Regions from separate parts of the Homo sapiens genome. Here all the other regions are reported to be linked to region 3. The links are microRNA targets in miRTarBase. Many come from high-throughput screens and were not tested one by one. Region 3 holds a microRNA gene; each other region holds the end of a gene's coding sequence.

Evidence for each region. The annotated mature microRNA hsa-miR-6726-3p reads CUCGCCCUGUCUCCCGCUAG and lies in region 3 at 2,348-2,367, opposite strand. An mRNA with a match to its seed (bases 2 to 7 or 8) in the 3' UTR can be bound and repressed. Matches are read on the target gene's strand: a 7mer-m8 pairs with bases 2 to 8, a 7mer-A1 pairs with bases 2 to 7 and ends in A, and an 8mer does both.
Region 1: the mRNA of BARX2 is a reported target of hsa-miR-6726-3p. Seed matches in the 3' UTR shown: 7mer-A1 at 681-687.
Region 2: miRTarBase lists PAN2 as a target of hsa-miR-6726-3p. The part of its 3' UTR that is shown has no 7-base or 8-base seed match.

The regions. Positions count from the first base shown.
Region 1 is chr11:129,450,824-129,454,066 of GRCh38, forward strand. It overlaps BARX2 (BARX homeobox 2), which reads left to right. Exons shown (of 4, transcript NM_003658.5): 4 at 313-1,456. The coding sequence ends at 579. Among named protein-coding and RNA genes, the nearest start is that of BARX2, 77 kb to the left of the region's middle. RefSeq lists an enhancer at 2,494-2,995.
Region 2 is chr12:56,314,618-56,317,860 of GRCh38, forward strand. PAN2 (poly(A) specific ribonuclease subunit PAN2) reads right to left here. Exons shown (of 26, transcript NM_014871.6): 26 at 2,319-3,026. The coding sequence ends at 2,992. It overlaps CNPY2 (canopy FGF signaling regulator 2), which reads right to left and starts at 1,371. Exons shown (of 6, transcript NM_014255.7): 1 at 1,204-1,371; 2 at 513-625; 3 at 234-349. The coding sequence starts at 600. CNPY2-AS1 (CNPY2 antisense RNA 1) reads left to right here. Exons shown (of 2, transcript XR_002957416.2): 2 at 1-191. RefSeq lists enhancers at 1,356-1,944, 1,445-1,494, 1,575-1,724.
Region 3 is chr1:1,293,763-1,297,005 of GRCh38, forward strand. MIR6726 (microRNA 6726) reads right to left here and starts at 2,408; the gene lies at 2,348-2,408. ACAP3 (ArfGAP with coiled-coil, ankyrin repeat and PH domains 3) reads right to left here. Exons shown (of 24, transcript NM_030649.3): 15 at 2,663-2,871; 16 at 2,449-2,518; 17 at 2,253-2,347; 18 at 1,974-2,176; 19 at 1,685-1,792; 20 at 956-1,054; 21 at 640-866; 22 at 328-437; 23 at 61-171.

The DNA.
Region 1 (3,243 bases), not on the chromosome of region 3:
ACTTGATAGTTATTGCATTAACATTTTAATTTTCATTTCTTTCCTTATTGTTGAAGTTGAATTCTGAAGCTGCCTATGATTGTTGTATTAAATGCCAAAATATATAATGTTGACCAAAAATGCGTTGAGCATTTAAAAAATGGAGGTGTCTTTGTAGACCAGAGGTGATGGGTTGAGAATATATTTTGCCAAATCCTGCAATTTCACTGCTGGAACAGATGGTTTAGATGCAACGTGAGGTTATACTGGGAGTGGAAAGGTGGAGGGAAGGAATTATTTCTTAGATTCAATAACAATTTTTTACTCACGTAGGTTCTTAAAGGTGGACAGGAAGCACCCACAAAACCCAAAGGTCGCCCCAAGAAGAACTCCATCCCCACATCAGAAGAGATTGAAGCTGAAGAGAAGATGAACAGCCAGGCCCAGGGTCAGGAGCAGCTGGAGCCCTCTCAGGGGCAGGAGGAGCTCTGTGAAGCACAGGAACCGAAAGCACGTGATGTCCCCTTAGAGATGGCAGAGCCACCAGACCCGCCCCAGGAGTTGCCAATACCCTCTTCGGAACCCCCACCATTAAGCTAAAGTAAAACCCTTTTGAGGGAAGAGGGAGACTGGGGAGAAGGGAAAAGAGAGAAGGCAGGGAGAGTAGGGAGAGAAAACCTTCCAGCAGCCCAGTAAACTGCGGGCGAAGAGATCTACCCGTCTCCCTCCCTCCCACAGTTACCATTGGCCTTGTCATCGCAAGCATTTGACAAAGACTTGCTTGTCTTGGGCCTGTCACCTCCTGAAAGGCTGCTTTAGCTGTGGATGCCCTTGATTAAGGGAGAGAGCGCCTAGGAGCTGCCTGCCCCAGCTGGGGTGACGGCTGTAGGGCTGGGTCTATGTTGCAAGCCCTATATCCTAGCATGCAGTGGAAAGTGCTTAGCTCTCTCCCTCCTGACCTCTGGGCAGCCAGTCATCAAAGCAGAGAGACGTGGCGGCATGTGGGCAGCATGCCCAGGTTCCTTGCTGACTCAGCACTTATTTCTGTAGTTTTAAAAAAGAATTTAATGTTTTTGGTTGTATTTTTTTGGGGGGGTGAGGGTGGGCAAAAACATGGGGGTAGTTCTGAGTTGTTAGAAATGTTTCTGAATCAAGTTTGTTTGAAGACACGTGTGCCTTTGTACCCATTATAAGATGGTCATAAGACCCAAGAACTGATAAGCTTTGGTTTTTTTTTTGTTTTGTTTTGTTTTTTGCTTCATTTACCCATTCATGCCTAGGGTTCCATTATTGGAACCCTAAGCTTGTGGGAGTTATTTCTATCCTACTGCTCAAGGTCATCACCAAGATCTGATTTTTCATAAAAAACATTTGTGACCTTCGGCATAAATGGGTTAAGGTGCCATCCCTGAAACTGCAATGCAGATATGTTCAGATAACTTTTATTTTTTAATTAAAAATAAATCTTTCAAAAGGATTGAGTGTTTTGTGTCTTCTGAGGAGTGTATCTAACCCTTCCTGAATGTGTCCTATGGGAAGAGAGATCCAGAGAGTGAACCAAACTAGGGGGGCCACCTTTTCCCCATCTATAAAACAAAGGATTGGGCCAGGCCATTGGTGTCCAAGTGCTGAGAGCTGTGGGAGTGGAACCGAGCCTCCGGGATGAGGACAGGGCAGAGTAGCTAGGCTCTCCCTTCCACCTCTCCCACCGCCTTCTGCCAGAGCAGCTCCCTTCTCAGCCGCTTCACATTTGGGGCGTCCAATGGTCTTACTTTTTTAAAGAGGTAAGAAATGTATATGCTTCAAAAGTCAAAACTATAAAAAAAGAAGTCTTGGGCTGGGAGCAGTGGCTCACGCCTGTAATCCCAGCACTTTGGGAGGCCCAGGCAGGCGGATCACCTGAGGTTGGGAGTTCGAGACCAGCCTGACCAACATGGAGAAACCCTGTCTCTACTAAAAATACAAAATTAGCTGGGTGTGGTGGTACATGCCTGTAATCCCAGCTACTTGGGAGGCTGAGGCAGGAGAATCGCTTGAACCTGGGAGGCGGAGGTTGCAGTGAGCCAAGATCATGCCATCGCACTCCAGCCTGGGCAATAAGAGCGGAACTCTGTCTCAAAACAAACAAACAAACAAACAAACAAAAAACAAAAAAAAACTTGCTTCCACCCTGCCCTCTCCTCCCCTGAATCCCCGGTAGGTAATTATTTTTATTGGTTTCTTGTTCATCTTTCCAGGGTTTCTTGACTAAGTATTCATTTGGATGATGGGCTCTGCAACTTTTAACAAAAGAAGACCTGAGAACTACTTGACTAGATGTGCTGGGTGATTTTAAATTTAAAAATTGTGTTCCACGTTAATTTAAGACCAAAAAGAAGGAGGCTCTAGATTTCCTAGCAGGAGGACTCTGCCTCTGTTTTTTTTTTGTCTGATTCTCATGCATTCTGGCCCAGAGCCTGATCTCAGAGGGGTCACCTTTATGATCACTGCCCCAGCGTGCTCACCTGTGATGGCTTACAGGGCCGAGTGCCCATTTAGTGGACTCTCAGTTATTAATTACACACAAACTCTGCCCAGTTGCAGGCTTGGAGAATACCAACTTTCAACAGTGGCCTCAACAAGGAAGCCAAATCTGTTACTACTTCTGTAAAACAATCACATAATTCATTTCAAAGTTAAACAGGAAAGATCCGCGTGTTTTCCATCACCTGGCAGGCCGCCTGCTTTTCTCCATTAACAATCAGAAAGTGACTGCAATTTTGACTTTGCCAAGGCAGTGCCTCATCCCCTTTGTTATTGAGATCAACAGAGAAAGCAGTCTTTTTCTTAACTCTTGTGAATAGACAAAGGAGGGGAGGATTTGGCTTCTGAGAACCAGTTTGAGCAGACCACACCTAGCTGCCTGTGCGAGGTTGCTTGCACCAAGCAGGCAGAACGCTGTCTCCTCCACCTGTAGCCCACCCCATGGTACAGTTTTATGATCTGCCTACCAGGTGGTGTCACAATGAGCCAAAGAATGTGCACAATGGCCAAAGTAAGCCGGTGGGTCAGTGTTAGTTCTGTGTCAATCCTAAGGAAGTGTTCTGTCCCATTCGCGCCACCCCAGAGAGGCCTCCTGTCTGGATGCTGGCTTCCCAGGATGGTGTTCCATCTCTTGCCCTGGGCTCCCATGATGTCCTTTTCTTTTTTTTTAAGTTCAGGGGTACATCTGCAGGTTTGTTACATCGGTAAGTTTGTGTCATGGGGGTTCGTTGTACAGATGAT
Region 2 (3,243 bases), not on the chromosome of region 3:
CAGGACTCCCTGTTTGCTAACAAATTCTACAGCAGAAACAAAGTATTAAGGTTTGCAGCCAGGAAGCAAGTGCATGGGGAATAAGCCTGCAGCTTCTTCCAAATGAGACAGAGCCAAATCTTTTTTCTGAGTCTGTTTTCTTCATTTCTATTAAACCAAGGTCCTTTTTAAGCAGTCGAATTTCATCCAAAGCCAGAGTGAGCTACTTTGTTTGGGGGAACAGTAACAGTTACCTCCACCACTGACTGGCTGCCATCTGGATTGATCCGGAAAGATCCCATCTGAATGGTCTTCTTGGGGTCCACCTGGGCAATTTCCCATTCTAGTTCATCCACCAGAGCCCTGCATGCTGGTGGAAGAGGAGAGAATGAGAGCAGGGGACAGGGTAGGGGGTAGGGTGTGAGGAGAATGGGATCAACCCAGGATTTCCATTCATCCTTCTCCCAGGCCTTGGATCTCATGCCCTCCCAAGGCTCTGCTTCCTCCACTTCTTTTTCCCGTTGTGCCTTTACCTCCACAGTGGAGATCCTGGCTCCTCCGAGCCCAGGCGGTTCCCAGCAGGGCCCCCAGAAGCAGGGCCAGCCAACCCCAGCCTTTCATCTTTAGCGTAATGGGGTCGCTCCACCTGGGTTTGAGTGGGAATAAAACATAAGTGTGAGGAGCCGACTCCATTTTTCCCTGACCCCCCCAATCCTCACCCCAAGGCTTTCAAAGGCCTCATTGTGACTCTGGCTCTACTTTCCAGGAAATGGCCGGGACACAAAGGGGCTTCTCTGTTCCAGCGCTTGAGGGCTCTGATTCCCCCAGGGTGGTGGGTGGGAGCGCGAGCTCAGGACTTGCGGCTCAGCCCCAGACTCTACGTGGATAGGTGAGGCCCTAAGTGTTGGTACTTTAGCACTGCATGCCTAGGGTTCACGGGGCTTTGTGGCAGCTACAGGAGGTAAGTTGGCGATTACGTGAGGACTACAGGCACTAGGGAACTGCCGGCAGGGAGCCCTCAGTCAGGCCAGGAGGCCAGCGAGGAGAGCAATAACTAGGGCCCATTTGGATCCTGCACCGAAGATTCCTGCGTCCCCACCTCCAGCCCGTAAGTGATTACCCGTACGGACACCAGCCCCCTTTCTAAGGACTCCGCCATTGCTTTCGCTTCAGTCCATCCCCAACCCTCAGCGCCCAGCGCCTCGCCGCCCGCATCCGTCCCACCTCTGCTCCCAGGGCCGCCGCCGTGGCCCAAGCGCTGGAAGACCGCTGGACTCTCACTTTGGCCCCAGTGGCTCCCGAAACTACACCTGGCTGCAGGGAGCAGGGCTGTCCGGGATTCTCCAGAGCGCTTCGCCGCCTGCCACACACGGGGTGTCCCGGCGACCGCCTGACCCAGCTCCCCTGACGCTAACTGGTACCTAAGCGGGACTCCAGCGTGCTGCGGTGCGAGCCCCAATCAGACACCGACCCCAAACCCGCCCCTCCAAACTCTCGCGCGAACAGGCAGCTTAGGAGAGGCTCCCGAACAGCAAGGACCCCGGTCAATCGCCGAAGGACCCAGACTTGCGTGGCGAACAGATCCACGTGACCACCAGGGGTCAGCCGTAGAATAGGAGTGGCCTTAAGCGACGACAGAGTCCGGGCGTGCTGTATGGGAGCGGCTAGTCGTGCGCGTGAGCCAGCCCAGGTGGGCTAGGACCTTCAAAACGGTGCGCTGCCGGCCAGCGAGCAGTCCAGGTTTCAATACACAGGAAACTACATCTCCCAGGAAGCACCGCAGCACCGGACCCATCTTTGTGAGCAACTACAAGTCTCAAGCTATCCTGGGACCTGTAGTTTGTCGGCTTACACAATTAACGGAAACCATACTGTACATCTTCAGTCTGACTTAGGGTACTGGGCAGCTATAGCAAAGACCCAGCATTGCCCAGAAAAGGCATAAATTATACCTTTTTCCCCTTTTTTTGAGACGGAGTCTCGCCCTATCGCCCAGGCTGGCATACAGTGGCGTGATCTCGGCTCACTGCAACCTCCGCCTCCCGGGTTGAAGCAATTTTCTGCCTCAGCTAGGGTTACAGTCGCCATCCACCACTCCCAGCTAATTTTTGTATTTTTAGTAGAGACGGGGTTTCACCATCTTGGTCAGGCTGGTCTTTAACTCCTGACCTCGTGTTCCACCCACCTCTGCCTCCCAAAGTGCTAGGATTACAGAAGTGAGCCACCGCGCCCGGCCTAATTATACCCTTTCATATCCATAACTTTGGATTCCGGACCTTTACCTTCAAAGGAAGGAGAGGAAGACTGAAGCCAGAGAACCCACACTAGCAGTTCTCTAATGAGATAAATAACAAACGATATTTTATTTTTATTTTATAAAACATGCAGTTTACAACAAATTTTTAAAAAATGGAACAAAACTTGGGACAGGCAAGTGGGATGGAAGACAGATGCTTCTCAGCCATCAGCAGGAATAAATGAAGCCGGCAGCCAAGCTTTGTCCAGGATCCAAAGGCCCTTTTGGCAATGGTATTGGCAACACTGGTTTGCTTGGGCCACCAACACTCTACTTGCTGGCCCCTCCAGGTATCCCTGAAGCAGTTGGTGACTTGTGCTAAGTCTTGAACTACTGTGGTATCCTCTGTCACTGTCCAGGACTTCAATCCCTAGCCAGCTAGGAACTTACAGTTATGGTTCCAGGAGCTTCTCTGCCTGGATATTAGTCACCCAGGATATTAAGAATACCAATTACTTTCCATCTGGGTCAATTCTAGACTCCATGTCTGTACCACTGTTTTGCAAAGAATGAAGAAGGAATGAATCTGGCTCCTAGAACCTTTGCAACAATTCTGCTGTGTTCCAGTTCAATTAATAGCACCATCTGTGACCCTAGACCCTGAGCACGTCCAGTACTGGAAGTGGACAAGGTATAGCCAACTTAGGAAGCCATCTCCCAGTTCTGGGGCTATAGAACAGTAAAGGGAGAGGGCCGTGGTTCTTTGGGAAGGGTAGTCAGAGCGCCAGCACTGAGGAGAAGACAGCTGCATCTGTCAGAGACAAAACCAAAAGCATGATTCAAGCTGAGTGGAGAAAAAGCATCTTCTCATACTTCCTATGAAGGAAAAATGCAAGAGAAAAAAGGGCATGGACCTTCCCTGAACATTTTAGACTTGGGCAAGAGGAAGTTATAGTTAATGGAGAGTTTCGATAAAATGTATTTTACTGAATGTTAGGAGGATGAAGTGCTTTGTAAACTGTTAAGTG
Region 3 (3,243 bases):
TGGAGGCCCCGCCCCTGCCCTGGAGGCCCCGCCCAGCCCCGAGGGCCCGGCCGCGCTCACAGTGTCACGATGTCAGCGTTGGCCGCCTGCACTGCGATGGCCAACGGGTCCCGCTGCTCTTGGTCCAGGGCGTGCTGGTCCGCGCCCCGCTTCAGGAACAGGCAAACCTGGCTGAGGGGCGAGGTCGGAGGGGCGTGTCGGGGCGGGGCGGGGCGGGGCGAGTGTGGTCGCGGGGGCGTGGCCGGATAGGGCATGGCGGACAGGGCGTAGCCGGGCCGGGGTAGGCGTGGTCGGGGCACAGGGCGGGGCGTGGGTTGCGCGTCTCACCCGGTGCGGCCCAGCAGCGTGGCGTGGTGCAGGGGCGCCCGGCCCCGGCTGTCTCTTTGGTTCACGTCCGCTCCGTTTTGCAGCAGGAACTCACAGACGATCAAGGAGCCCTGGGGAGCCGGGGCAACTCAGACGGAGCCACGGCACCGGCCCCTCTCCGCGCCTCTGCACCCTGACCCCGGCCTTGGGCGCCCCCAGCCGGGACCGAACGTGGTCCCCACCGCGGACAGGCGACCCTTGTGTGGGCGCCACAGAAGATGCAAACGCGACTGTGCACCTGTGTCCTGCGCGCAGCCCCCGTGGCTCGCTCACCCCTAGCACGGCCTGCACCAGCGGCGTCTTGCCCTCATCCTCCGCGTCCGCCCAGTTGACCTCGGCCCCGTGGGCCAGCGCCGCCGCCAGCGCAGGAAGGTCGCGGGCACGCGCTGCGCGGTGCGCCAAGAGCCCCGGGTGCAGCTCGCGCACGTCCGCCAGGCCCCAGGCCTCGGCCTCAGTGTCCCCGTCTGCCTCACCGCTGGACTCCTCCGACTCTGCACCCTCTGTGGGGAGGGGGCGGTCAGGGAAAGCAACCCCCGGGGCTGCCCAGGGGCTGGGCAGGGGCCTCGGGCGAGGGCAAGACGCCACCCACCCTCCTCAGTGACGCTGTCCACCACAGAGCCCGAGCCGAAAGCCAGGACGTCCGAGCTGCCATCCGAGCTGCCCCCAAGGCCACTGTCGCTACTCAGACCTGCAGGTCCGCAGGGAAGGGGGTCCTGAGGGTGGGAGGCCCAGACTCCGTCCAGAGCCCTGGGGCAAGGCTGGAACTCCACCCACCCTCCAGGGGCCACCCCTAGGGACAGGACCAGCTCCCACCCAGGGCCGGGGGGAGCCAGCTGCAGGCTAGGAGCAAAGGAGAGAAAACCAAATAACAGCTCAAAGGTGCCAGGGGTAGCCCCCTAAAGCCCAGGCCTTTTGGGAAGCCCTTCCCTCCCGCTCGCCGCCTTACCCGGCACCCCCCGCAGTGGGCCCCCCAGCCCCGTCTGTGGCTGGCCCAGGCTGAAATGTCTCCACCCAACCAACGGGCAGCATGGCTCCAGAAGGGCCCTAGGCTGAGGGCCGGCTGGCAGCGCCCTCTGCTTCCCCAGCACCCCGGGCCACCCGCTGTGTGCACACACCCAGGTGCACACAGCCCACACACACATTTGCACAGCTCACCCCTGACAGTCAGGGCCTTGGCCTCCAGCTGTGTGGCCAGGAGGCCCCCCGCCCCTTCAGATGCTGCTCCATTCCCTGGCAAGGGCCATCCACACTCAGGCACCCTTCAGGCCAGCCTCCTTGGCCCTGCCCTGCCACCTGGCTGGGCCCACCCCACACTTACTGCGAGGGCCAGCCCCTGCGGCCCCTGCGTCGAAGTAGGAGAAGAGCGAGTCCAGCTCGTCGGGACAGAAGAGGGAGTCTCGGCGGAACTTACGATCCAGGGTGCCCACTGCAGGGGCAGTGCGTGTTCAGAGTGTGGAACAGGCCCGGGGTGGGGCAGGGAACCCCAGGTCACGCCGGGAGTCTGCGGAGCCTGAGGTGCCCCCAGAGCCCTGCCACCAGCCCCTTGACGGAGTCCATCCCCGACCAAGGCAAGCCCCTCCCAGCCCTGCCGGGGCATGGCCTCCCACCTGAGGACAGAGCGGCCACACAGGGCAGAACGGGCTCAAGCCGGACCTTGCGGCGGGCAGTGGGAGCGCGGGGAGAGCTGTGGGGCCGCAGGCACTTCTGCACCCTCCAGCGTCTTGGGGCCTCCAGGGCTGGTGCCATGGGCGCCTTCCGCAGAAACTTCTTTTCCACGTATTTGTCCTTGATCCAGGCCTCCTTGTCCTGCCTGGACCAGGGGGGAACATGAGGCTGTGCCCCCAGGCTGGGGCTCCCTGACTGATCCAGACTGTACCCCACCTCACCGGGAGCTGCTGGCTGTGGGTTTCCTGCTGCCTGCACCCTCACACTGGGCCTCATAGATCTGATTCACAGCGCTGTTTCCAAGCTCACACATCAGCTAGCGGGAGACAGGGCGAGCAGGCATCAGTGCGAACCTGCAGACCCCAGCTCCCGCCCCCACAAACGGGGTCCCGTGGCCTCCAGGAGCCCCACACGCACCTTTAGCAGCTCAGGCTCCCACGAGTCCAGCGTCAGGGACCGCACCTTGGAGCAGTGGACACCCAGGCTCCTGGAGAGCAGAGGTAGGGATGAGTCTGGGGGAGGCAAGGCCCCCAGCTCCGGCCCAACCCCCACCCCCGGCCTGGCCCTCAGGGGCCCACCTGTGGATGCTCCAGCCCAACCCCCACCCCCAGCCTGGCCCTCAGGGGCCCACCTGTGGATGCCGGAGCACTCAATGCAGAGCAGCACGCCCAGGTTGATGCTGGCCCAGCGGGGGTCCGGCTGGCCGCAGTCGCCGCACTGGCTGTTGCCGGCCACACTCTGCACACGCTGCAGCACACTCTCGCCCTTCACGCCACGCTCCCGAGTGTCGGTGGCGGAGTCGATGCTGCTCGTGGACGGGGATGCTGTGCGGTCCAGCCTCTGGAGGATGGGGTGGAGCTGCTCGGTCCCGCAGGGGCTCCAGCATGGTTTCCCCAGCAGGCCCCCTCCTCCCCAGCCAGAAGAGCCAATGCAGGCCAGGGCCCCTCGAGCACACGCCCGCACACGCACGTACACGCGCACACCCTCACGTGGGCAGATGGCCCCCCCCTCGAGCACACGCCCGCACACGCACACACGCGCACACCCTCACGTGGACAGGTGGCGCCGAGCACACGCCCGCACACGCACGTACGTGTGCACACCCTCACGTGGGCAGATGGTGCCGAGCACACTCCCACACGCGCGTGTATACGTGCACACCCTCACATGGGCAGATGGTACCTGCACACACATGCACATCCACACTGCACA